Linked DNA regions of Homo sapiens. The protein of the gene in region 7 purifies or fractionates together with the protein of the main gene of each other region. This does not show direct contact. Each region holds a gene or a part of one and is shown on either strand. Other genes may lie near its edges. The genes, in order: BAZ1B, ALDH1L1, YME1L1, CARD19, DDAH1, STARD7 and APOOL.

Region 1 (3,500 bases), on a different chromosome or scaffold from region 7:
CATTATCCTCAAATGCAGCTGAATCTTTATTGTCATCTGTGTCTGAGCCCTCGCTTTCCTCCTGAACATCAGATCTGCGCAAGCAGAGCCGCACCAGCTCTGAAACAGAATGCAGAGTCAAGGGGATTTCCGACAGCTTCATTCCCAATTCACCATAGTCTTCTGCTATCTCATCTTGTAGGAGGGTCTGTAAGAGGATGACCAACACCCTGTTAAGGTATAAAAAGCCACCCTTATCTGCACTCAAGGCTTCCATAAGGGACACAGCAGTAATAGGATACTGAGCATCTGGTAAAAGTAGCCCAGAATAACAGCTCAAGAATTCCACCACCATGGCCACATCCCCAAACAGCGTGTTGGGCAGCCCTTCAGGGGTATCCACCAATCTGAATGCTGGAAGGTTTTTGCCAGTTAACTCTTGGTCCTCATACCGCTTCTGTTTTTCTAATCTCTCAAGCATTTCTTTCTCTCTTCGTTCTTTGGCTTTTTCCTTCAACTTCTTTTTCAGCTCCTCCCGTTTCTTTTTCAAATATTCTTTCCGTTGTTCTTCAGACATAGAAGCCCACCTCTTTTTGTGCTCTAGAAGTTCATAGCGTTTTTGAACAAGACTTCGCAATTCTTCTGGGAGACGAGCTCTATCTTCACTAGAGAGAAGACGAGCTGTTTTGGAGATAACACAGGACAGGGCGCTCCTCTTGTCCTCCCTGTCTTTGTTTTCTTTGTAGTATGCAATGAGGTGTAGGGCTGCAGGAGGCAGATGTTTATGAGGTTTACTAGAGGTCCTAGGTGTACCCCCAGAATTCCGTGGGGCTCGTGTCATCTTCTGCGTGCCTTTGGCCATATCCAACAAAGTCATCTGCTTCATTTTGGTTTTAGGAGTCTTCAGTCCTTTTTTGGGAGATTTGGAATTCCCTGTGGATTTCTGTCCATTCAGGATGCCTTTGCTTCTGCCCTTTGCCTTCAAAGGCTTGTCACTGTGCTTCCCTGGTTTCTTGGCAGGTGGGCCTTTTTTAGGAATGTGAAAGTTAGTGTGCAGCTTATTGGGCGACATCATCTTCATCATTTCTTCTAGATGTTCTTCAGGAGATTTGGAATTCTTTGAGTTCTTCACTTTGAGTGGCGAGCCACTCAATGACTTCTTCAAGTGTACGTGACACCATAACTTAGGATTTAGTGGTGAACTAAGAGAAGAGTTGTCTGTCTTGGATTTCTTTGAGGGCTTCCTGTCTGGGGATCCAGTATTCTTCCTCTTAGTAGAAGGGTTGAGAGTCATATACTAGAATTTAAGAATAGGAGCAAAATTAATTTTAAAATCTAAAACTAACTTAAGCAACATTTAAGCATCTTAAAGGCCCTCTTCCCCAGCTATTCAGGTAAAGCTACATATTCATATCTCTTCATAGATACTTTGTCCCTGAAAAAACAAAGACATGAATGTTAGCTAATGTTTTTGTCATGTCAACACAAAATTCCCTTGACATCCAGACTTAATACTAGACATTTTTGCTATGTAACTAGTTCTGTTTATGTATATTAATGATTCTTAAATATTTAAACAAAATCTGTGAACCCCTCCAGCAGAAATAGTAGACAAAAACTATGCATACAATTTCAGAGAATCCATCCATGGACCCCAGATTAAGGATATCTGATCTACAAAATGGCAATATCTGAAAAGTTTAAAAAGCACTGTTCTTGAAACAAGACTGAATTTTCATCCTTTCACTGTTGGTTCCTATTCAGGGCATTTTATGCTTTTAAGTAGAAATGATACTGTTTAAAGTACTTTTGTCTTAACTCTGAGGTACATTTTCTTATAGAAGCATCAGTGAGTGTAAGAACAACATGAACACTGCTCATAGATAAAGACACCTCCTGACCTGGGCCTCAAACTCCCCTTTGTCCTCACCCAACACTTTTAAGAACTCATTCTGGCCAGGCGCAGTGGCTCACCCCTGCAATCCCAGAACTTTGGGAGGCCGAGGCAGGCAGATCACTTGAGGTCAGGAGTTGGAGACCAGCCTGGCCAACATGGTGAAACCCCGTCTCTACTAAAAATGCAAAAATTAGCCAGGCATGGTGGCACATGCCTGTCACCCCAGCTACTCGGGAGGCTGAGGCTCGAAATTGCTTGAACCCGGGAGGAGGAGGGTGCAGTGAGCCAGGATCACACCACTGCACTCCAGCCTGGAGGACAGAGCAAGACCCCCGTCTCAAAAAAAAAAAAAAAAAAAGAACTCATTCCCACAACTAATTTCACACCATCCTCTCTTTGAACATACCCTCTTATGTTCCAAATCCACTCCCTCCAGTCCCACAACTCTACAATCCTTCAATCTCACCAGAACCTTAAATCCATTAATTCTATTACATTTTCACCATCCTAACCCCCATGTCTTGCTTTACCCAGATTAAATTTTAGTCAATCATGATAATTAATCTCACATAAACCTATAGTTCCCTTGTCTCTCTTATTCTATTGTATCTACTTGGAAAAACCATAACCCTGATTAACTCACTCTATTTACTCCTGCCCTGCATATGTTCAGCTGAAACACGGCTAAAATAAAAGATAAATAAAAGTGGGTGGTCTCAGCTGGGTGTGGAGGCTCACACCTGTAATCCCAGCACTTTCGGAGGCCAAGGCGGGCTGATCACAAGGTCAGGAGATCGAGACCATCCTGGCTAACACGGTGAAACCCAGTCTCTACTAAAAATCAAAAAAATTAGCCAGGCATGGTGGCGGGTGCCTGTAGTCCCAGCTACTTGGGAGACTGAGGCGTGAACCCGCAAGGTGGAGCTTGCAGTGAGCCGAGATCACGCCACTGCACTCCAGCTTGGGCGATGGAGCAAGACTCTGCCTCAAAAAAAAAAAAAAAAAGTGAGTGGTCTCACTTTAAATTCATTGCCAGGCACCTCAAACGGGTCCTCCATATCACCTAGCAAACACAGTATGTTCCTTTAGTCCACTCATGTTCCCACTCTCCTGATACACATCTCATCTCCTCATACCTCCCATGCCTCATCTCCATCATATACAATCAGTTAACAGGTTACAGTCCGGTCCATTTGTCATGATACCACTGCTTCTCTTTTTAAATGTGTATTGAAAAAAAGAAAAACCAAACTCTTTGAGTGGAATGCTTTAAAAAAGATAATTACAAAGAAAAATGCCTGGTAGCTAAAATGCAAACTAATTGAAATAACCAAGTCAAGTAATCCAAAATACAGCCCATTTCAGAAGAAAACTGTTGCTTTATGTGATTAGGGAAAAGACTAGATCAACTCTAGAATACTTGATTTTTATTACCAAAATCAGCTAAGTACATCAATGGCACTCACAGATATGAACATCCAGTTTTTCAACAGAAGGGACTAACCAGAAAAGAGCAACATGTAAAGAAGAAGTCTAAAGACAAGTAGGTTAGGCTAGTTTGAGATGAGACTACAGGCAAGAAAACAGCTAAGGATTACTGAATAACGAAATTATGAGCCCCTTA
Region 2 (3,500 bases), on a different chromosome or scaffold from region 7:
AGCCTGGGCAACAAGAGTGAAACTCCGCCCCCCCAAAAAAAACGTTAGTGGGGACTGACAGAGAGGTGTTGATGTCTCCAACTGTAATAATAGTGGATTCATCTATTTCTCCTTAAAATTCTGTCAGTTTTTGCTTTACACATTTTAGCACTGTTGTTAGGCACATACATATTAAGGAGTATTATGTCTGCTGGGATAATTGACTCCTTTACCATTATGTAGTGCTTCTCTTTATTCCTAATAATTTTCCTTTCTCTGAAGTCTGCTTTATCTGAAGTTAATAGAACTACTCCATATTTCTTTTGATTAGTGGTAGCACGGTATATCTTTCTCCATCCCTTTATTTGTAACCTATCTGGTTTTTATGTTGAAATGGGTTTGTTGTAGACAACATATAGTTAGGTCACGATTCTTTATTCACTCTAGATAGTCACATGTTTTAATTGGTATATTTACACCATTGATATTTGAAGTGATTTTTTGATATAGTTGGATTAATATTTACCATATTTATTACTGTTTTCTATTTGCCCTTTGTTTCTTTTTTCTTCCACACTTTTTTCTGCCTTTTCTGATCTTAACTGAGCATTTTATATGATTCCATTTTCTTTTCTCTCTTAGCATATCAGTTTTACTTTTTTGTTGTTGCTTTTTTAGTGGTTGACCTACAGTTTGCAATATACACTTAAATCTAATTTAAGTCTGCTTTTGAATAACACTATACAACTTTATGGGTAGTGTAAGGGCCTTATTGCAGAGTATTCTTGATTCCTCCCTCCCATGCCTTATTATTACTGCTATCATTCATTTCACTTATCCATAAGCTACAATCACTGAATACATTGTTGCAATTATTATTTTGAACAAATTGTTATCTCTCAGATTAAGAATAAGAAAAAAAATTATTTCACATTTATTTCTAATACTCTTTTGTATGTTGAGTTTCTGACTTGTTTAATTTTCCTTTTTTTCTGAATTACTTCTTTTAACATATCTTGTAAGGCAGTTTACTGGTGACAAATTCCTTCAATTTTTGTTTGAGAAGTCTTTCTCCTCCACTTTTGAAGGACAATTTTACTGCATACAGATGGAATCTAGTTAGTTCTAAGTTGATGGAATGTTTTCAGTTCTTTAAATAATTCTTTCTATTCTATTCCTGATTGCATGGTTTATGAAGAGACGTTTGATGTAATCCTCATCTCTCTCCCTCTATAGGTAAGGTGTCCTGCCCTGCCTCTCCCTGGCTTCACTGAAGATTATCTCTGTGTCTTTTATTTTTTGCAGTTTGAATATGATATGCCTAAGTATAGATTTTTTGGGGGGTGGGGGGTGATCTTTATCCTATTTGGTTTCCTCTGAGCTGCTTGGATCTTGGTTTGGTATCTGTCTTTAATTTTGGAAAATTATCAGTCATTATCACTTCAAACATTTTTACTATTCCTTTCTTTCTTTTTATTCCATCTGATATCCCTATTACAAGGATTTACACCTATGGCAATTGTCCCACCATTCTTGGATATTCTGTTTTGTCTTTTTTATTCTATATTTCCCTTTGCATTTCAGTTTGGGAAGTGTTTGTTGATATTTCATCCATCTCATTGATTATTTCCTCAACTGTATCCAGTCTATTGATAAACCTATTAAAGACATTCTTTGCATTTATCACAGGGTTTTTATTTCTAGACTTTTTTTGATTTTTTTCTTAATTTCCATCTCTCTGCTTACATGACCAATTTGTTCTTATATGTTCTCCACATTTTTCCATTAGAGCTCTTAGCATTTTAATTATCATTGTTTTAAATTTTCCATCTGAAAATTCCAACATTGCTTCCATATCTGATTGTGGTTTAGGTGCTTGTTTCATCTTTGCAAACTGTGTTTTTGTCTTTTATATATCTTGTAATTGTTTTGCAGAAAATCAGATATAATGTATTGGGTAAAAGGTACTGAGGTAGATAGGCTTTTAGTGTGAGGTTTGATATTTACCTGTCTAGGAGTTAGAATGTGTTTACTATTTGCTATAGCTGTGGGTATCAGAGGATATAATTTTCTCTCTTCATCTTCTTGTTTTTGTCTACCCTGTTGTCTTTGGGTTTTTGTAGAAACTCCTTAAATAGGCTCTGGCTTGCAGTTCTCTTATCCGTAATCCCCTTGTTACTATACTGGAGCCCTGTGGATGTAGTAGCAAGGTGTTTTGGTGGGGGGAAGTGTTTTACAGTCCTACAATTAGGTCTTAGTGTTTCAGTGAGCCTGCACCCCTGGGCTGTGACCTTCACAAGTGTTTCTCAGTCCTACCCCTTTTAGGTGATGAGAAAGGCTAGAGGGGCTGGATTTGGGTTTTTCCTCATCACTTAGGTTAGTTAGGCCCTGGGTGTCCATTCACTTAGGCTCTGGTATAATAGTTTCTATGAGGGTAGATATGTTGAGAAAAAAATGACTGCTTTCCTTGCCTCCTGCCAAAACCAGAAGGGGATTTTTCTCCAATCCTTACTGTGAGAACTGTAAGAATTAAAGAAAGAGGAAAGAAATACAAAAGCTGGCTTGCCAGTTAAGACATTTATTTTAGAGAAAATCAACCTGAAAGGAGCCTTCTGGCCAAGTTAGGTCAGAGGCACACTCTCTTACAGACTGAGTTTTTAAGGATTCAGGATGGGAGAGTTTATCAGAGGCTTGGACTGCTTCTGTGTCTCTTTGTTGTGCTTATCTGGGAGGGAGAGTTGTGTGCCTGTTTTCATACATTTTTCCTGCAGCTGCAGGTATAGTCCCTGAGTCTGTTTTTACTTATTTATTGAGACAGAGTCTCGCTCTGTCGCTAGGCCGGAGTGCAGTGGCGCCATCTCGGCTCACTGCAACCTCTGCTTCCCAGGTTCAAGCGATTTTCCTGCCTCAGCCTCCTGAGTAGATGGGACTACAGGCATGCGCCACCACGCCTGGCTAATTTTTTGTAGTTTTAGTAGAGACGGGGTTTCACCGTGTTAGCCAGGATGGTCTTGATCTCCTTACCTCGTGATCCGCCCGCCTCGGCCTCCCAAAGTGCTGGGATTACAGGCATGAGCCACCGCGCCCAGCCAAGAGTCTGCTTTTAGCTTTCCTGTCTTAGTGCCCCTGAAGGAAAGGGAATGTGCTTGTTCCTTATTATTAAGGCCCACTGTTTTACTGGGGCCCATCGTATGAGGGTGAAGTTTGGCAGTTACCCAAGATACTTTCCCCCCACCTCCCTTTGTGTCCCAGCTGTCTTATCCGTGTTTTACTGTCTGCTCTTTCTGGCTGCTTGTAGTTAGAAGAGAAGTGATTTCCTTGAAATGCATGAGGCTAGAAAGGGAGCTGGAATTTAAAGTGGCGGTGTTTGTCTGAGATGACAGTACTCCTGCTCTATCATTCCAGACCCTATGGTTATAAAAGGACAAGAGGGGACATGTTCTTTCTAGCTACTTCCTGCTGATGCGGGGGTGGAGAGTTTTTTGGTCTTAGATTGACTGTAGGATCAACACCATTTGTAG
Region 3 (3,500 bases), on a different chromosome or scaffold from region 7:
AATCTGGGAAACTAACCACTACTAGGAATGAAAGCCTAATTCTAGTACTGTAAACATTAATATGTTCTTTCTTTAAGGGTTAGATTAGGCATTAAAAGGAATCATGTATTTAAAGGAATAAGAAATAAGTTAGACAAATAAAAAAAGCTTTTACCAGATAAAAATGGGTTTTTTAGAAGTCCATAAATGCCGAATAGCAGCAGAACGAAGAGAATCAGACGGGTTCGCCTTAGGGAATCTAGGAGAGAAAGAAAAAGCTTTACATGAAATCACATTTATGAAATATGACAGCTCAATGAAATGCAAATATTAGGTTATTGTTAATAATCATATTTCATCACATCCAATTTTGGAATCTGGCATTCTTTCTCACAACTGCTATGATTTCCTGTAAGTACCCTATTATCAAAAACTTAAGGCCAAGCATGGTGGCTCATGCCTGTAATCCTAGCATTTTAAGAGGTCAAGGCAGGAGGATCACTTGATCCCTGGAGTTCAAGACCAGCCTGGACAACAGGGCAAGATTCCATCTCCACAAAAATTAGCTGGGCGTGGTGGCACATGCCTGTGATCCTAGCTACTCAGGAGGCTGAGGTGAGAGGATCACTTGAGCCCAGAAAGTTAAGGCTACAATGAGCCATGATTGCACCACTGCACTCTGGCTTAGGCAATGAAGCAAGACCGTGTCTCAAAAACAAACACAAACAAAAAATAAAGAAACAAAAACCTTTATGAAGCCATTCACACTTCCTGTTCTCCAATTTGTTTTCTCTCTTGAGAAAGGGAAACCATCAGCAGTATCGCCATTTCTACATAGATTAAGTTACAAATATAGTGGAATTTAATCAATAGATGGTCTTAGAAAAGTTACTTAAAACTTAAATGTAGGACTATGACTTCCTTTCAGTTACTCTTCTCAAACACGGATGGTGTCAATTCAACTTACCATTGGTTTTTTGTGTGAGTGCTTGAGCTTTCAGAAAACCTTCCGCAAAACCAGTTTTAAATGCATCTTGGTGAGCTTCAGGTATATTTTTGGTTTTCATGAGTTTGTCCAAACTCTCAACATCTGATCCTCTGTCCCGCAAAAGAAACCCCTGAATACACAAACAACACATCAGTACTGGTTAACAACACAGTGATACTTCCCAACAATATTGTGACCACTCAAAAAAATTCACTAAAATTCTGTATAATTTTTACTGTCAATGTGAAGAAACAGATTAAGACTCAGCAATGAATTAATCAATAACTAGGAAACTAACACTAGATCCCATTCCTGCATCAATCAATTAATAATATAAAGAAAGTGGCATTATTCTCTGCACGAACACTACACTGAAAACAGGTCACATATTATTTTAGGGTTTGATTGGCTTAATGTTCATATCCCTCTATCTTTGCTAGAGGAAAAAATCTCATTAATTTACTAAATGTCTACTAAGCACCGTTCATATACTTGGCCTTATATAAGTTCTGAAGATGTAAAGATAAATAAACCACTGATCTTAAAGTTTTCAGTCTACTGGAAAAAGATATATAAATAACTAAGTTTCTTAAATCATTTTGATATTATGTTAGAAGTATTATGTATGGTGGTAAATCAATGCTACCTCAGGAATATGGAAAAGGCCTTACAGAGAATAGGACATCTAAAACACAGGGAATAAACACTATGAACAATCTGACGGAGGCATGAATCAATAGCCTTCAGTGCTCAAGAACTGTAAGCAATCTTATATAAGACTTCAATGCCAAGAGAGGAGCAGGGAAACAGAGGGGCATATTGAATGGTGAGAAGAGAAACATGGCAGGTAGAGATCAAATGATGAAATTCCCAGTGTATCAGGTGGAGGTAAGCAATAAAGCAGAGTAATATAACTAGATCATTATTTTAGAAAGATTGATGGGTGGCAGTCTGGAGGCTGGACTGAACGCAGCAAGACTAGAGGCAAGGAGACTAAACAAGTATTCATTACAGTAATTTAGGCAACAAATAGTTATAGCCTATCTATGGCAGTGGAACAGATGTAAGAAATATTTAGGAGGTTGGATCAACAGGACTTTAGTGGTTAATGGATGTGGGAGGTAAGGCAACATGGACAAACGTAGGTTGATAGCCAGGTTTTTAGCTTGGGTGGATGCTGCTCATTAATACAGAGAACACCTCGACAGGTGTAGGTTTGTGGGAAAAAAATCTAGTAAGTGGAGAGGCAAGTCTGGTGCCCAGAAGAGTTAGAGGTATAATGATTACACAGGTTACTAATCCCTTATTATTAGTGGAAAGAAGGAAGAATATCTATCAGCCAACAAAAGAAATCAGATATTGAAGCTCCTCACTCTAACAACTTGAAAATATTTGCTTTTTGGATCATAAAAAGGTCTAATTACCTTCACGAATGATGGCGCTATATTCTGTGTTTCAGCTAATCTCTCGGAGGTAGACTGGAGACGTCGTGTCCTTGATTTCAAAGTTTTAAAACCCCGAGACTGTATGAAAACTAAATAAAACAATACCATTCACTGTCACTATAAATTGTTACAGGAAAAGAAAAATGCCTAAGATTCTAAAGTCTGACACCCTACCTGTATATCCTAGTCTATCTAATTTGCCTGACACTTCAATACGTTTTCCTTTGTTTCCTTCTTTTTTGTAGAGACGGGGTCTCCTTTTATTGCCCAGGCTGGCCTTGAACTCCTGGGCTCAAGCAGTCCTCTTGCCTCAGCCTCCCAAAGAGCTGGGATTAGGTCTGAGAACTTAAATCTATCATGCCCAGCTTATAGTTTTTTCTATCCTCCTTTTTTCAAAAGGAACTTTATTTATTTATTTATTTATTTATTTATTTATTTATTTATTTATTTGAGATGGAGTTTCACTCTTGTTGCCCAGGCTGGAGTGCAAGGCATTGCTGCTCACTGCAACCTCCGCCTCCTGGGTTCAAGCAACTATCCTGCCTCAGCCTCCTAACCTCAGGTGATCCACCTGCCTTGGCCTCCCACAGTGCTGGGATTATAGGCGTGAGCCACCGCGCCTGGCCTATTTTTTATGTTGATAGGGGATAAAGGTAAATAGAGAAGTCAGAGGGTTATACAATATAATTTAAAAAACTGAGTATCAACTCTGATAAACTGTGATTTCAAAAAAAAAAAAAAACCCAACCAAGTAATTAAAATAGATTGAATCTACACAACTGATTTTTACATGTTTTTGGTAATTACATAATGTTTTTGAAAAAAGGGTAAGTGTATCAAATTAGTGTCTTCTAATTTCTCAAGCCCCAATCCCACTTCCCAGAAGTATAACCTGTTAACAATTCTGACTACCCTTGTATGCATGCACACAGGTGCTCTTTCTATAAAAACTACTCTAGAAATAGTACCTAATTTTTTGCAATTTTCATTTTTCGTGCATATTTTTCAGAACAGAACAGTGCATTCAGTTTAATGGCTGTTTACACTTTTCCAATTTATCACAGTGCAATTCATTCAACCATTTCCCT
Region 4 (3,500 bases), on a different chromosome or scaffold from region 7:
TCTTTTGTAGACAGCACTTAGTTGTATCATATTTTAAAAATCCACTCTGCCAATCTATGCCTTTTGATAGGAAAATTTGGCTGGGTGTGGTGGCTTACACCTGTATTCCCAGCACTTTGGGAGGCTGAGGTAGGCAGATCACCTGAGGTCAGGAGTTTGACACCAGCCTGGCCAACATGGTGAAACCCTGTCTCTACTAAAAAAAAAAAAAAAATACAAAAACCAGCTGGGTGTTGTGGCACATGCCTGTAATCCCAGGAAGAATTGCTTGAACCCAGGAGGCAGAGGTTGCAGTGAGCCGAGATTGGGCCACTGCACTCCAGCTTGGGTGACAGAGCAAGACTCTATCTCAAAAAAAAACAAAAAAAAAAAAACAAAGTTTAACCTATTTGCATTTGAAGTAATTGCTGATAAGGAATGTATTACTACTGCCATTTTGCTATTTGTTTCCTGTATGTCTTGTAGCTTTTTTGACCCTCATTTATTCTATTACTGCCTTCTTTTGTGTTTTGTTGATATTTTATAGTAACACATTTAGAGTCCCTTCTCAGTTTCTTTTGTGTTATATTCTATAAATATTTTCTTTGTGTACATGGGGAAACAGGACAAGCTGCCACAAGTATGTAGGGTGATGCACTTGTTCAGTCCCTGTGGGGGTCCTGTGCCCCATCCTCTCCATGCCCTTCCGTCATCACTCCACCGCTCAGCCTTAAACATCTGCCATTCTAAGAAACATTCTTAATGGAAAAGGTGGTAAAATGATATTTTAATGGTGATTCTGGAAAAAAAAAAGGCAAATGAAAAGCATTTCTAGCCCTCTGGGAGAACTCACTGGTTTATTGTTGGTAGAAGCTTCTTAAGGCCTTGCAGACACACTGTGTCCCATGGTGATCCCAGCACAGGCCACCCTGAGCCCTGTGTCCCTGTATCTGTGCCACTGTGAAGATCTGCAGAGCGCACATCTGGGCATTCTTGATCTCGAACTCCTGAGCTCAAGTGATCCACCCACCTCAGCCTCCCAAAATGTTGGTATTACGGGTGTGAGCCATCACAACTGGTCTGAGCCACCGTGCCTGGCCCTGGGCATTCTGAGCCACCTGTGCCACCTGTACCTTCCCCAGAACTGAGCTATTTCCTGATGGCCCTGCAGGTGGCCCATGAAAAGTAGATTCTTCGCCCCTCTGAGTTTGTTTTCTGTGATAAGCTCTGTGAAAGTGGGTTTCCACCGCAACCCCTCACTTCCATCTTCTGGAGAGGCAGGTTGGCAGGCCAGGGGCAGCTCTCAGCTGGGCAATGCGCACCACACAGGCTGGGATGGCTGTGATTCTGCAGGTTCACCCTCCTGGTGGGAACCCACCTTGGGGGTGATGCCTTCCTGTGGTCAGTGTCAGTACGAGGCTGTCGTCTCTGGTCCCCTTGGGCTGTGCTGGCTCATGACCCTGTGCTATCTGTTTTAGATCAGACCTATTGTGACCGCCTGGTGCAGGACACGCCTTTCCTGACAGGCCATGGGCGCTTGAGTGAGCAGCAGGTGGACAGGATCATCCTCCAGCTGAACCGTTACTACCCACAGATCCTTACCAACAAGGAGGCGGAAAAGGTGCTGAGGAGGTGAGGGGGGTACCCGAGACACTGCTCAGTTTCCCTTCCTTTCTGGGCTGGGAGAAGCTGGTGACCAGCCCTGGGTCATTCTCTCATGGGATGACACACTAGGTATGTCAGGATTCAGAGGTGACACATCTGGACCTGGCTACTAAGGCTGCCTGAGCTACAAACTGGCCCTTTGGGGTGAGCCCAACCAGGCTCGGAACATCAGCTCTCTGTGCCTCGGTTTCTTCATATGTCATTGGGTCTGCTGTCCCCTTCCCGAGTTGCTGGGAGGTTACAGGAGATAACATGTGACAATACATGAAGCACACAACAGTATAAGATACGGAGGGAGGCGAGAAAGAGGGCAGGAGGGAGGGGTGAGGAGGGAGGAGGCAGAGGGAGAGCCGAAGTGGGATGGGGAACAGATAATGGGCCCGGCCCACCCCAGTGCCACAGGGCTTTGCACTCTGCATCTTCCGAAGGTTCAAAGCGGGCAAACAATTGCTTCCTTTTCTCTAATTTCTATATTACTGTACGAGGCTGGAAAGCCCAGCATGTCACAGGTAGGCAGCTGAGCTTCTAGGAAGGCAGATGCTGACTCACCCCACAGCCGCGCCCCAGTCTGCCCCTCTCAGCAGTGCTGAGCGGGCTGGTCCCCTCAGAACCCCAGCCTCCCCCATGTGTGGAGTGGACACCGAGAGCCCCTGCCTGGCAGGTGTGGTGAGGACTGACTGAGCTGAGCCGGGTAAACGCCTGCCCGAGAGCCCTTGTCGCCAGATGGCCCTGCAGCCCTGTGGGCAGCCACGCTCATCACCCCATCTCACAGAGGTGGTCCGAAGGCTCAAGAGGCAGCCACTTGCCCAGGGCCACTCATTTCAGGAGTGTCAGGCCACATCTTGAGTTCATCCTATTATTTGGGAAAGTGCCCAGGGCCAGTGGCTGTCACTCTGTCACATGGCCCTGGCCTCTCAGAGCTGCAGAGCTGGGCACACCAGGGTGGCTCTGCTGGAGATGGCATTTAAGATGCAATTCCTGGGCTCTGTCTTGGGAGGTCTGTTCTGCTCCATCACCCCAGTGCCAGGTGGCCCTGAGGGGACATTGGATGAGAGAGTTAGCCACACCCTGCCGACCCTACCCACATCTGTGGCTCTGGCGCCCCCACTGAGCCACCTGTTCCTTGACAGGTGCCACGTGCAGGGCTATCCTGAGGGTTGGGGCATCTCCTGGAACAATGAGGTTGGCCCACAACAGAACAGGAGTCAACACGGGCCCTGCTACTGGCTCAGGTGCTTCTTCCGTTTTGAAGGTGGTACAGTAATTTTAAAAGTTAGGAGCTCAAATCCAAATCTCTTATTATTGCAATTGAAGTCTAATGCATGTTCACTTTTAAAAAGTTTAGAAAGTTTAAGACGTTTATACAAGAAAAAGCACATATTCCTTCCTCACAGACACCACAGCTCCTGCCACCCATCTGCCTGCCATTTTCACACTGCCATGGTTTAACTCCAGTTCCCTGTGGCCATGTAGAATGATATGCTGCCACCAGGTGGCAGCACCAGGCCACAGACTCCAGGTCCTGGAGGTCAAGGCCCAGTGGCCTGTCCACTGACCTTGAGAACCACACATTTCTCTGTCATACACATCAAAAGAGCCAATACTTCTGTCTTTTTTTTTTTTTCTTTGAGATGGAGTCTCTGTCGCCCAGGCTGGAGTGCAGTGGCATGATCTCGGCTCAGTGCAACCTCTGCCTCCCAGTTTCAAGCAATCCTCTGGCCTCAGCCTCCCAAGAAGCTGGGATTAAACATGCACCATCATGCCCAGTCAATTTTTTGTACTTTTAGTAGAGATGGGGTTTCACCGTGTTGGCCAGGCTGGTGTCAAACTCCTGACCTGGAACTCCTGATCCGCCT
Region 5 (3,500 bases), on a different chromosome or scaffold from region 7:
TAGTATCCTAGCATAAAATAACTTTAAAAACAACACAAAAATGAACTCTGCACAAAATTTAAAATATTGATACCTCATCCTTACCTCCTCAACATAATCAAAACTATCAAAAAACAACACTCCTCCCCCTAACAACAAGAATATCCAAATTAAAAACCCACAAAAACAAATATTATTTGGGGTTTAGTCATGTAGACTCTTTCTACTCTTTATCAATATCCATACAGTTTTAAGGAATCTGCTGAAATATCATGCTAGGAAGGTATAACATGATCTTTTCCACAATCTGGTTCTAATCTACCTTTATGGTCCCATTTACTTTTACTTTTCAGTGTTTGTATGGAAATGTGCTTCATATTACTAGGCAGACATGCCCACTCAGTCATGGGGGCACTGGATAGTAAGATTTATGGTATGAAAAGCAGAAGAGAGACAGCATGCTTCCTGTAGAAAATTCATTCCTAAGAGTGGCACATAGTAAGCCCTTCCTGACTCACCAGTCAGGTAAATCATTCACTTCTAGTGTGGAATATGTCAAGGGTGGAGAGAGGCCAAGAGCAATCCCATAATGGAATACCCTTCACATGGAATGAAACATCAGGAATGGGGATGAGCTTATGCACTGTATGAAAGGCTGAGACATACAGATGAACAGGTCACAGACCCAGTTTTCCAAGATTACAGTTTAGTGGAGGAAACTGACAGAAAAATAGATAATTATATTACAATAAGAACTAGCAGGGCACCATGCCAAACATTTTACATTTATTATCTAATCTCAAACTTCTATTTTACAGATGAAGAAACTGCACTGAGAGAGGTCAAATAACTTGCTTTAGGTCACATAGGTAGATTCAAACCCAGATCTGTGCAACTCAAAACGTTTCTTAATCATCTCACTTTGCTCTTTCTCAACTTCTGCAGCAGGAAACTACCTCCTACAAACTACATAACACCTACTTTTTCACATTCACTTGATACTTATTATTCATTCTCTGGCAGTACCATTAATTCTTTTCTTGTATGTAATCCTGTTATGACCTGCTACCGTCTGGTATAGGTAAAGGACTTAACTGGACATCTCTCTTGCACTTTTGAATTTAAATTGTTCTTGAAGGGATAGGCCCATAGAGGGGCTCACCTATGGAGTGGGTCTTTCTTTACAGCCCTGATTAGAAACCTTAGATCTAATCCAACATGTGGGCAATTAAGAAGTTAAAGACACTCCTAAAGATTAACTTTTCTAAGAAAATTAACAACATATTCAATTTAGCCCTCTTTATAAAATGGATATGCCCAGAAATAATATGAAGACGCTTGAGAGAATAAAAAAACAGACCCAAGTAGCTCTTTTGTTACGAATTGCAATTTAGTTCTTCTTATGCAGATTTTCTTTTTGGCTGCTTCCAAAACACAATAATAGCAGCTTCCATTTATTATTGTGTGCAAGGGAACAAATGAAGACCGCCTGAGCCCGGGAGTTTGAGACCAGCCTGGGCAACATGGCGAAACCCTGTCTCTACAAAAAAATTAGCTGGGTGTGGTGGCACACACCTGTAGTCACCTCCTCAGGAGGCTGAGGTGGGAAGATCATAGAGGTTGCCACCAGCCGAGATAGTGCCACTGCACTCCAGCCTGAGCCACAGATAATCTGTCTTGGAGTCTAATCCTTAGTCTTAAAAACCATAAAAGACTAGACCTACCATATTCTCACAATTACTTCTTCAGCTTCCTTCTTTCTAAGGCCTACGTTAACATGTAATCTAGTAGTGTTGCAGGCTTAGCATCCCTTCTACCTAGATCCCCTAGAGAGATAATTGCTACAAAGTTCCCAAAGTTTTTGGAATAAGGACAAATTTTACTATGAGTTTTTGTGCAGTTTTGCTCTCTTCAACCAGACTGCTACCTCCTTGAATGCAGGTCCAGGCATAATGAGGTGGACAGAGCATGGGCTTCAGAGTCAGAAAGGTCTGGGTCTGAAGCCTTGCTCAGCCACACACTAATTGTGTGACTTTGGGAAAGTCACATATGCCCTGTGAGCCTCAATTCCCTCAGCAGTAAAATGGGATGGGAATGCTATACCTATCCTCCACAGGGTAACTCTGAAGATTATTTAAAAAAAACCCCAAAACAGATAATGTACATAAAATGCTTAGCACAAGCTTCTAGCAGATATTAAATGTGTAATAAAAGTCGGTTCACTTCCCTCTTTGTTTCTTGCAAGTCACTTGACATATAGCAGGTGACCAAAATATGTTTGCACTAACTGGTTCATTTCTTCATTCCTTTCACCTTTTTAAACGCTACAGAGAACCTCAGGAGGGCACTGTGATGAACTGTGTGGTCAATCACATGGGTAAACAATTGAATTCCCTCAGAGAAACAAGGTATGGTCTATGTCCAGAAACAGAAATACAACTCATTATTTTTAATGTGAAAAAACATGGCTAAAATCAACAAGGCCAAGGTTTGTCTGTTTTTCAAAGCCATACAGAAGGGCACTATACTCTGTGGTCCTAACTCAAATGACTCTGGATGACAAAGTAAGACAACAGGGGGTTGGATCTGGAATTACCTGCAGAGTATGTGGCACCTAAGGGCATTCACAGAAAGAAAGAAAAGAAAAACTTTTGTGTATATCAAACCGAACACATAAGCCTCTGTCAGGTTGTGACCCCAATTTAGTAAAATAGTCCATAAACCCAATGGGCAGATTGACTTCTTCATAGTAGAGTGGGGCTGCCTCGATATGCAAGGTGGCAGTTAGGATTTGTGAAACTTCTAGACAATAGCTTTTGGTCAGTCTCACAAACGTGCTTTTTTCCAGGTGCAGGGAATGGGATTCCACTATGTCTAAATCTCTGTTTATTATGTGCTGTTGAGGGTGGACCAAGATGGCCAGTCTGCTCATGTTTGCAGTCAGAACTGGACGGTCATCCTGTCACATGAATTGGACCTAGTTTACCCAAGAAGTTCAGAATTTCTTCCAGACAACTGGGGAGGCAGTTCTCTGAGCCAGAGGTTTACTAAGTAGGACCCCAGTGGTTTGAGGACCTCAGAGAGATCCTTAGAACATGTATACACAACCACTGCTACCTGGTCAACCTAGACACAAACAAAACAAAATCTAGAAAATCTATTACTCACATTGACTTACTTTTCTAAGCAATTGGGAAAACTGTGTGTGGCATATTTTGGCCCACACATTCAGGCTAAGTGCTCCCACCACTCATAATCACCAGATAACTGCCAGTTGGCTTTCCATTTTAATTTGTGATCTGCAGAAGCTTCATTGTACTCTTTACCCACAGATAAATAAATCACCCATGTCTCTTAGTACCAGATGAATTGAAAGAGAAAGAAACATGGCAAGACTACATCTCTTAGGCCTGACTTTATTCACTGGATCTAGCGGTCTGGGCAAATTCCCCACCTCTCAGTGTGACTCATGCATGTCCGGAGGTGACTACAAAGCAAAAGCATGGAATGTCATACATTCC
Region 6 (3,500 bases), on a different chromosome or scaffold from region 7:
GGCAATGGCACAATCTCGGCTCACCACAACCTCCACCTCCTGAGTTCAAGTGATTCTCCTGCCTCAGCCTCCCCAGTAGCTGAGATTACAGGCATGCACCACCATGCCCAGCTAATTTTGTATTTTCAGTAGAAACGGGGCTTCTCCATCTTGGTCAGGCTGGTCTCGAACTCCCGACCTCAAGTGATCCACCCACCTTGGCCTCCCAAAGTGCTGGGATTACAAGCGTGTGCCACTGCACCCAGCCAAGACTCCGTCTTTAAAAAACACTTTGGGCTGGGTGTGGTGGCTCACGTCTGTAATCTCAGCACTTTGGGAGGCTGAGGCAGATGGATCACCTGAGGTCAGGAGTTTGAGACCACCCTGGCCAACATGGCAAAACCCTGTCTCTACTGAAAATACAAAGAAAAAAAAAAACTAGCCAGGTGTGGTGGCACACACCAGTAATCCCAGCTACTCGGGAGGCTGAGGCAAGAGAACTGCTTGAACCCGGGAGGCGGAGGTTGCAGTGAGCCAAGATCACGCCATCGCACTCCAGCCTGGGCAACAAGAGCGAAACTCATCTCAGAAAAACAAAACAAAACAAACAAAAACAAAAAAACAAAAAAAACACTTTGGGTGTTTTTTTTTTCTTTTTTTTGAGACAAGGTCTCACTCTGTTGCACAGTCTGGAGTGCAGTGATGCAATCTCGACTCAGTACAGCCTCCACCTCCTGGGCTCAAGCAGTCATCCCACCTCAACCTCCTGTGTAGCAGGGACTACAGGCATGCACTACCACCACAACTAATTTTTTATTTTTTGCAGAGACTGGGTCTTCCCTGTGTTGCCCAGGCTGATCTCAAACTCCTTGGCTAAAGAGATCCTCCTGCCTCAGCCTCCCAAAGTGCTGCGATTACAGGCATGAGCTACCGTGCTCAGCCAGAGTGTTAAATTTCTAATGGCCTTCCTAAACAGAAACATTGCACACATATTGCTACATTTCATTGCTGGGGAAGGAAGCTTCACATGGACTCCTCCAGACTCCTCCTGTGCCTTTTTCTCTTATGATCCAGCTGCATATCTTTACTCTGACACTGTCATAAATCTTAGCTGGGGGCTGGGCACGGTGGCTCATGCCTGTAATCCCAGCACTCAGAAAGGCCGAGGCGGGCGGATCACTTGAAGTCAGGAGTTCGAGACCAGCCTGGCCAACATGGTGAAGCCCTGTCTCTAATAAAAATACAAAAATTAGCTAGGCGTGGTGGTGCACATCTGTAATCCCAGCTACTTGGGAGGCTGAAGCAGGAGAATTGCTTGAACCTGGCAGGTGGAGGTTGCAAGTGAGCCAAGATCGCACCACTGCACTCCAGCCTGCACAACAGAACGAGACTCCGTCTCCAAAAAAAAAAAAAAAAAATCAATATTTTGTACACAGTATGCACATCCTGAAGACAAAAAGACCACAAAATTTTATTCTTCGTATTATTGGTGATCTTACTGTATTGTTATTCTGAGGCTGTGTATTTCAACAAATTAGTAGTTGTGTTAGGGTTCCTGGGAATTGAGTTCTACAGTACAGGGAAAGACAAAAGATAGAAGATAGAAATAAAAACTCCATAGTCCTGAATTTGAATTAAAAGTATTAGTATATACTTAGGATTTATTTTATCTTAAAAATAAACATACCAGTAAAATGTATTACTTGGTTCTGTCTTCTGAAAAGGCCTACAAACAATAAACGACCCAATAGCTATGAATATTCTTAGCAGCCAAATTGTGGTATTTAAATGCCATTTTCCACTAAAAGGAACCAGGACTCCCTAAAGAAATGTTAATTTCCAGGTGTAAAACTAAAAATATACAAGATGAACCTACAACATCTTGTAACACCAGAAAGCAAGACAGCTTCTGGGGTCATGTCAAAGGGGCTTGAGCCAACAAGAAGACTCCCAATGACCAAAACTGGAATCAATTTGAGCATCAATAAGGATAATATATTTAAAAACTAAGTACATTTAAGTCTGTGTCTTTTTTTTTTTTTTTTTTTGAGACGAGTCTCACTGTGTCGCCCACGCTGGGGTGCAGCGGCACGATCTTGGCTCACTGCAACCTCTGCCTCCCAGGTTCAAGCCATTCTCTCCTGCCTCAGCCTCCCAAGTGGCTGGGATTACAGACACGTGCCACAATGCCTGGATAATTTTTGTACTTTTAGTAGAGACAGGGTTTCACCATGTTGGCCAGGCTGGTCTCAAAATCCTGACCTCAAGTTATCTACATGCCTCGGCCTCCCAAAGTGCTGGGATTACAGGCGTGAGCCACTGCGCCTGGCTTTTTTATTTTTTATTTTTTTTTTGAGAAGGGTCTCAAACTGTTGCCCAGGCTGGCATGCAGTGGCACAAACACGGCTTAATGCAGCCTTGACCTCCTGGACTCAAGTGATTCTCCCAACCTCAGCTTCCCAAGCAGCTGGGACTACAGGCACATATCACCATGCCTGGCTAATTTTTATTTTTTGTAGAGACCGGGTCTCTCCATGCTGCCTGGCCCAGAGCTGTTTTACAAATTTCTTACTTGGGCTGGGCACAGTGGCTCACGCCTCTAATCCCAGCATTTTGGGAGGCTGAGGTGGGAGGATTGCTTGAGTCCAGGAGTTTGAGACCAGCCTGCGCAGCATGGTGAGACCCCATCTCTACAAAAAATACAAAAAATTAGCCTGACATGTTGGCACACGCCTATAATCCCAGCTCCTCAGGAGGCTGAGGCAGGAGGATCACCTGAGCCCAGGAAGTCAAGGCTGCAGTGAGTTGTGATTGTACCACTGCACACTAGCCTGGGTAACAGTGGGAGACCCTGTTTCCAAAAAAACCCAAAATCCTTATTTGAGATAAATACTGAAATATATAATAGAAGAACTGGGTTCTCCTACAGTAAAGCTAGAATTTGCTTCAAAATAATCAGGGGAGTGAGAAAGGAAATGGGAAAGGGTATAGATAAAACAATTTTGGCCATAAGTTGATAACTGGAGCTGGGGATGGATACAGGGGGTTCATTATACTCTTCTACTTCTGTATCTTTTGTATCTATTTCAAATTTTCCATGATAAAAACCCCCTACCTTGGCTCAAAGATCTAATTCCCATTTGGCAAATCCAAACTCAGCTACATGGTTTTCGAGTACCCTCTGTACACAGTCAATGCAATTTATCACTTCTCCCTAACCTCTACTTTCCTCTCTAAGCATGTGAGTCTCTCAGTGCATACCTGGCTCATTCCTATCTTTGTCTTTGCTTGAATCATGTCTTCTAACCCTAGTGCCCTGCCTGCTTTCCTCTCTATCCAGTGTACTTTTTTTTTTGTTTTTTTTTACAAGGACCAACTCAAGTCCTTGAGGTGGTATAAATAAAACAACTTGATGAGAATAAGAAAACTACACTAAAGAACACTGTCCATATAGCCCTAAATCGAACACAAGCAATAGGGAGAAACAAAGCCATTATAAGGTGAAGTGGAACTAAAACCAG
Region 7 (2,939 bases):
TCAAGCGATCCTCCCACCTCAGCCAACCAGACATGAGTGACTGTGCTCAGCCTTTTTTAAAAAAATGAAGGTATTTGGTATGGCCGGGTATGGTGGCTCACACCTATAATCCCAGCACTTTGGGAGGCCAAGGTGGGTGAATCACCTGAGGTCAGGAGTTTGAGACCAGCCTGACCAACATAGTGAAACCCTGTCTCTACTAAAAACACGCAAAAAGTGCAAAATTAGCTAGGCGTGGTGGCTCATGCCTGTAATTCCAGCTACTTGGGAGGCTGAGGCAGGAGAATCACTTGAATCCGGGAGGTGGAGGCTGCAGTGAGCCGAGATCGTGCCATTGCACTTCAGCCTGGGCACAAGAACAAAACTCAGTCTCAAAAAATAAATAATAAAAAATAAAGGTATATAATATGTCTTAGATTTGATGAAATATGAGTGTGTTTGAGATCTGATCCAAGGTTTTAAAAAATTCATTTCAAATCCTGGAGATAAATTCTGAGGAGCTTACTTATGAAAAACTAGCAAGTGATAGCTGGTATTTACAGATATGGTACTTTACACAATTTATGTAATTAATATTTTCTCACAGACAAGGTTCCTTGTGGATATCACTGAATAATTTTTGTGTAGTTTCTATGCCCATGAAGTGCCTGGTAGGTAGTAGGAACTCACACGTTCTGCTATGCTGGTTGCAGCACAGGACACAAAAGTTAGAATTATTTCAAAGGACTTATACTCTACTAGGAAAGAGAGAAACATAGAAATATAGTGTTGTATGTGGTATCTTCCCTAAGATAAGTACAACCAAAGAGCTATGGATGTTCAGAGATAGAATGTAGTACTGGGATGATGTCAAGGAGGCAGTGGTACTTAAGCTGCTCAAGGTAGGGAAGCAGTTTACTTGCTAGTTTTTCATAAGTAAGCTCTTCAGAATTTATCTCCAGTATTTGAAATGAATTTTTTTAAACCTCAGATCTGAATATATTCAAACACCCATATTTCATCAAATCTAAGGCATATCATATACCTTTAATTTAAAAAAAAATGCTGAGCAGAGTTGCTTATGTCTGGGAGGCTGAAGTGGGAGGATTGCTTGAGGCCAAAAGTTTGAGACCAGCCTGAGCAACATAGCAAGATCCTGCCTCTAAAAACAAACAAACAAAAAATGCTGCCAGTTGATCATTACATTTATCCCGACATCAGATATGTCAAATTGTGAAAAGCACCTTAATTTTGATGAAATATGATAGGTAAAAAATAGCGCAAAGCTAAGTATAAGTGACTTTTAAATTATCTGCTCTTTTGGATTATCACTACTGCTACTAGCCGTTAGAATATTGGTTTGGATAATGGAAAGTTGACTAGAGCTACAAAATCTGTTTCAAAATAAAAGATCTGCTCAAACAAGAATGTGATGATCACTTGCTGTATTGTACAACAAAGTCAAACTGCTGTTAGACTCAGGTGACAGTCAAATGTTGGAGGCTGTGTTGGGATGAGTTGTTACAAAGCCTCTTTCATTCTTCCCATGCCATGTCCAGGAGTTCTTCTCTGTTAAACCTGAAGAGATGCCAGCCCTCCTCAGAGGAAAGGTCTAAAGCCCCTCGACTAGTATAGTAGTTGATAGAAGCCTGGTTCCAAATGACGACAAGAAAGTGCATGCAGTTACATTGAGTTGTGATGGCTATCTGTTTAAAAACAAACAAGCAAATATTACTTTCATTTGAAAGTATAATCTTCGTTAACACATATATTTTATTGAAGGTCTACTCTATGCAAGACACTATGTGTGAATAATACTTCCAAATATAGTAGTTACCTTTTGAACTTTTCTATAGCTGTAAAAAGAAAAAAGTCTCACTGTTCTGAGCTTTAAAGCCCTCTTTAAAATCTCAAAACTGATTTGCAAAGCCTTTATCATACAGAAAAGGTGTACCTAAAAGAACACATGTTCTCATATGTTTCCAAAATACAAGAAGATCTTGCTTTTATAGTCTTGTAATATTCATACTGTGAGCCTGTGTTTTTGAATAAAAATGCTTTCTAATCTCCCTCCTTCTTACTTTCCCTTGATAGCAAAAAGGGTGTATAGTGTGGTTGTGGATTATATATAAATCAATTTTAATTGACTATAATTCATATACTGTATATGATCATCTGATTTGAAAATCCAGTTTAATTTGGGTAGAAATTTGAAGTATATGTTGGGGTTATGTTCAAATGGTGAGATTAATGATTTAATTTATGCCCTGTGAATATTTATTAAGAAAAGGTTAATGTATAGAATATCAATACTAATTGTAATACATACCTGACTTAGCCTCTTCAGCATTTCAGCTCCAATACCTAGGCCTTTTAAATAGACAATGCAAAGTGAAAACTGCAAATTTCACTTAACTTGTTATTTGCTTTAGTTTAAAATAAATAATATCTAAAACTCTGTATCTGTTTTTTGTATATTATTAATAGCTTCTGGAAACACAACTCGTGAATGCTTTCATATCCCTTTTTCCTAATTGGAATGACGTACCAAAGGTCATAGAAGAGTTTGGGTTTATTTTAAAGATCAGTGAAGAAGTGAGTCTCTGCCACTATTGTCTTATAACGGTATATTTCTTAGCTGTTTTTACTGAAAACCACCTAAAATGTGAAAGCATTTTTTAAAGATAAAAGTATAGCTGTGTGGCCTATACTCACACGATGGCTCACACATGTGATGGCACGATGGCTCACACCTGTAATCCCAGCACTTTGGGAGGCCAAGGCAGGAGGATCACTTGAGCCCAGGAGTTTGAGACCAGCCTGGGCAACACAGACCCTGTTTCTCCAAAAAATAAAGAATTAGCTGGGTGCTGTGGCACATGCCTGTAGCCCCAGCTACTTGGGAGGCTGAGGTGGGAGGATTGCTTGAGTGTAGGAGGTTGAGGTTACAATGAGTCGTG

Evidence for each region.
Region 1: the proteins of APOOL (region 7) and BAZ1B purify together in Homo sapiens (affinity purification with mass spectrometry; one large-scale study listed by BioGRID and IntAct). This does not show direct contact.
Region 2: the proteins of APOOL (region 7) and ALDH1L1 purify together in Homo sapiens (co-immunoprecipitation; one large-scale study listed by IntAct). This does not show direct contact.
Region 3: the proteins of APOOL (region 7) and YME1L1 purify together in Homo sapiens (affinity purification with mass spectrometry; one large-scale study listed by BioGRID and IntAct). This does not show direct contact.
Region 4: the proteins of APOOL (region 7) and CARD19 purify together in Homo sapiens (affinity purification with mass spectrometry; one large-scale study listed by BioGRID and IntAct). This does not show direct contact.
Region 5: the proteins of APOOL (region 7) and DDAH1 purify together in Homo sapiens (affinity purification with mass spectrometry; one large-scale study listed by BioGRID and IntAct). This does not show direct contact.
Region 6: the proteins of APOOL (region 7) and STARD7 purify together in Homo sapiens (affinity purification with mass spectrometry; one large-scale study listed by BioGRID and IntAct). This does not show direct contact.

The regions. Positions count from the first base shown.
Region 1 is NC_000007.14:73,477,294-73,480,793, forward strand, and holds part of BAZ1B (tyrosine-protein kinase BAZ1B), read right to left. Parts: intron 1,277-3,500; coding exon 1-1,276. UniProt on the Homo sapiens protein: Atypical tyrosine-protein kinase that plays a central role in chromatin remodeling and acts as a transcription regulator. Involved in DNA damage response by phosphorylating 'Tyr-142' of histone H2AX (H2AXY142ph).
Region 2 is NC_000003.12:126,170,587-126,174,086, reverse strand, and holds part of ALDH1L1 (cytosolic 10-formyltetrahydrofolate dehydrogenase), read left to right. Parts: intron 1-3,500. UniProt on the Homo sapiens protein: Cytosolic 10-formyltetrahydrofolate dehydrogenase that catalyzes the NADP(+)-dependent conversion of 10-formyltetrahydrofolate to tetrahydrofolate and carbon dioxide.
Region 3 is NC_000010.11:27,133,885-27,137,384, forward strand, and holds part of YME1L1 (ATP-dependent zinc metalloprotease YME1L1), read right to left. Parts: intron 2,502-3,500; coding exon 2,392-2,501; intron 1,098-2,391; coding exon 947-1,097; intron 239-946; coding exon 155-238; intron 1-154. UniProt on the Homo sapiens protein: ATP-dependent metalloprotease that catalyzes the degradation of folded and unfolded proteins with a suitable degron sequence in the mitochondrial intermembrane region.
Region 4 is NC_000009.12:93,106,217-93,109,716, forward strand, and holds part of CARD19 (caspase recruitment domain-containing protein 19), read left to right. Parts: intron 1-1,457; coding exon 1,458-1,600; coding exon of another isoform or gene 1,601-1,611; intron 1,612-2,774; exon of another isoform or gene 2,775-2,876; intron 2,877-3,500. UniProt on the Homo sapiens protein: Plays a role in inhibiting the effects of BCL10-induced activation of NF-kappa-B. May inhibit the phosphorylation of BCL10 in a CARD-dependent manner.
Region 5 is NC_000001.11:85,325,660-85,329,159, forward strand, and holds part of DDAH1 (N(G),N(G)-dimethylarginine dimethylaminohydrolase 1), read right to left. Parts: intron 1-3,500. UniProt on the Homo sapiens protein: Hydrolyzes N(G),N(G)-dimethyl-L-arginine (ADMA) and N(G)-monomethyl-L-arginine (MMA) which act as inhibitors of NOS. Has therefore a role in the regulation of nitric oxide generation.
Region 6 is NC_000002.12:96,188,328-96,191,827, forward strand, and holds part of STARD7 (stAR-related lipid transfer protein 7, mitochondrial isoform 1 precursor), read right to left. Parts: intron 1-3,500. UniProt on the Homo sapiens protein: May play a protective role in mucosal tissues by preventing exaggerated allergic responses.
Region 7 is NC_000023.11:85,090,877-85,093,815, forward strand, and holds the end of APOOL (MICOS complex subunit MIC27 precursor), read left to right. Parts: 3' UTR 1-1,514; coding exon of another isoform or gene 1,515-1,685; 3' UTR 1,686-2,308; coding exon of another isoform or gene 2,309-2,349; 3' UTR 2,350-2,439; downstream 2,440-2,939. Other genes in the region: SATL1 (spermidine/spermine N(1)-acetyltransferase-like protein 1), read right to left, coding at 1,515-1,685, 2,309-2,349. UniProt on the Homo sapiens protein: Component of the MICOS complex, a large protein complex of the mitochondrial inner membrane that plays crucial roles in the maintenance of crista junctions, inner membrane architecture, and formation of contact sites to the outer membrane.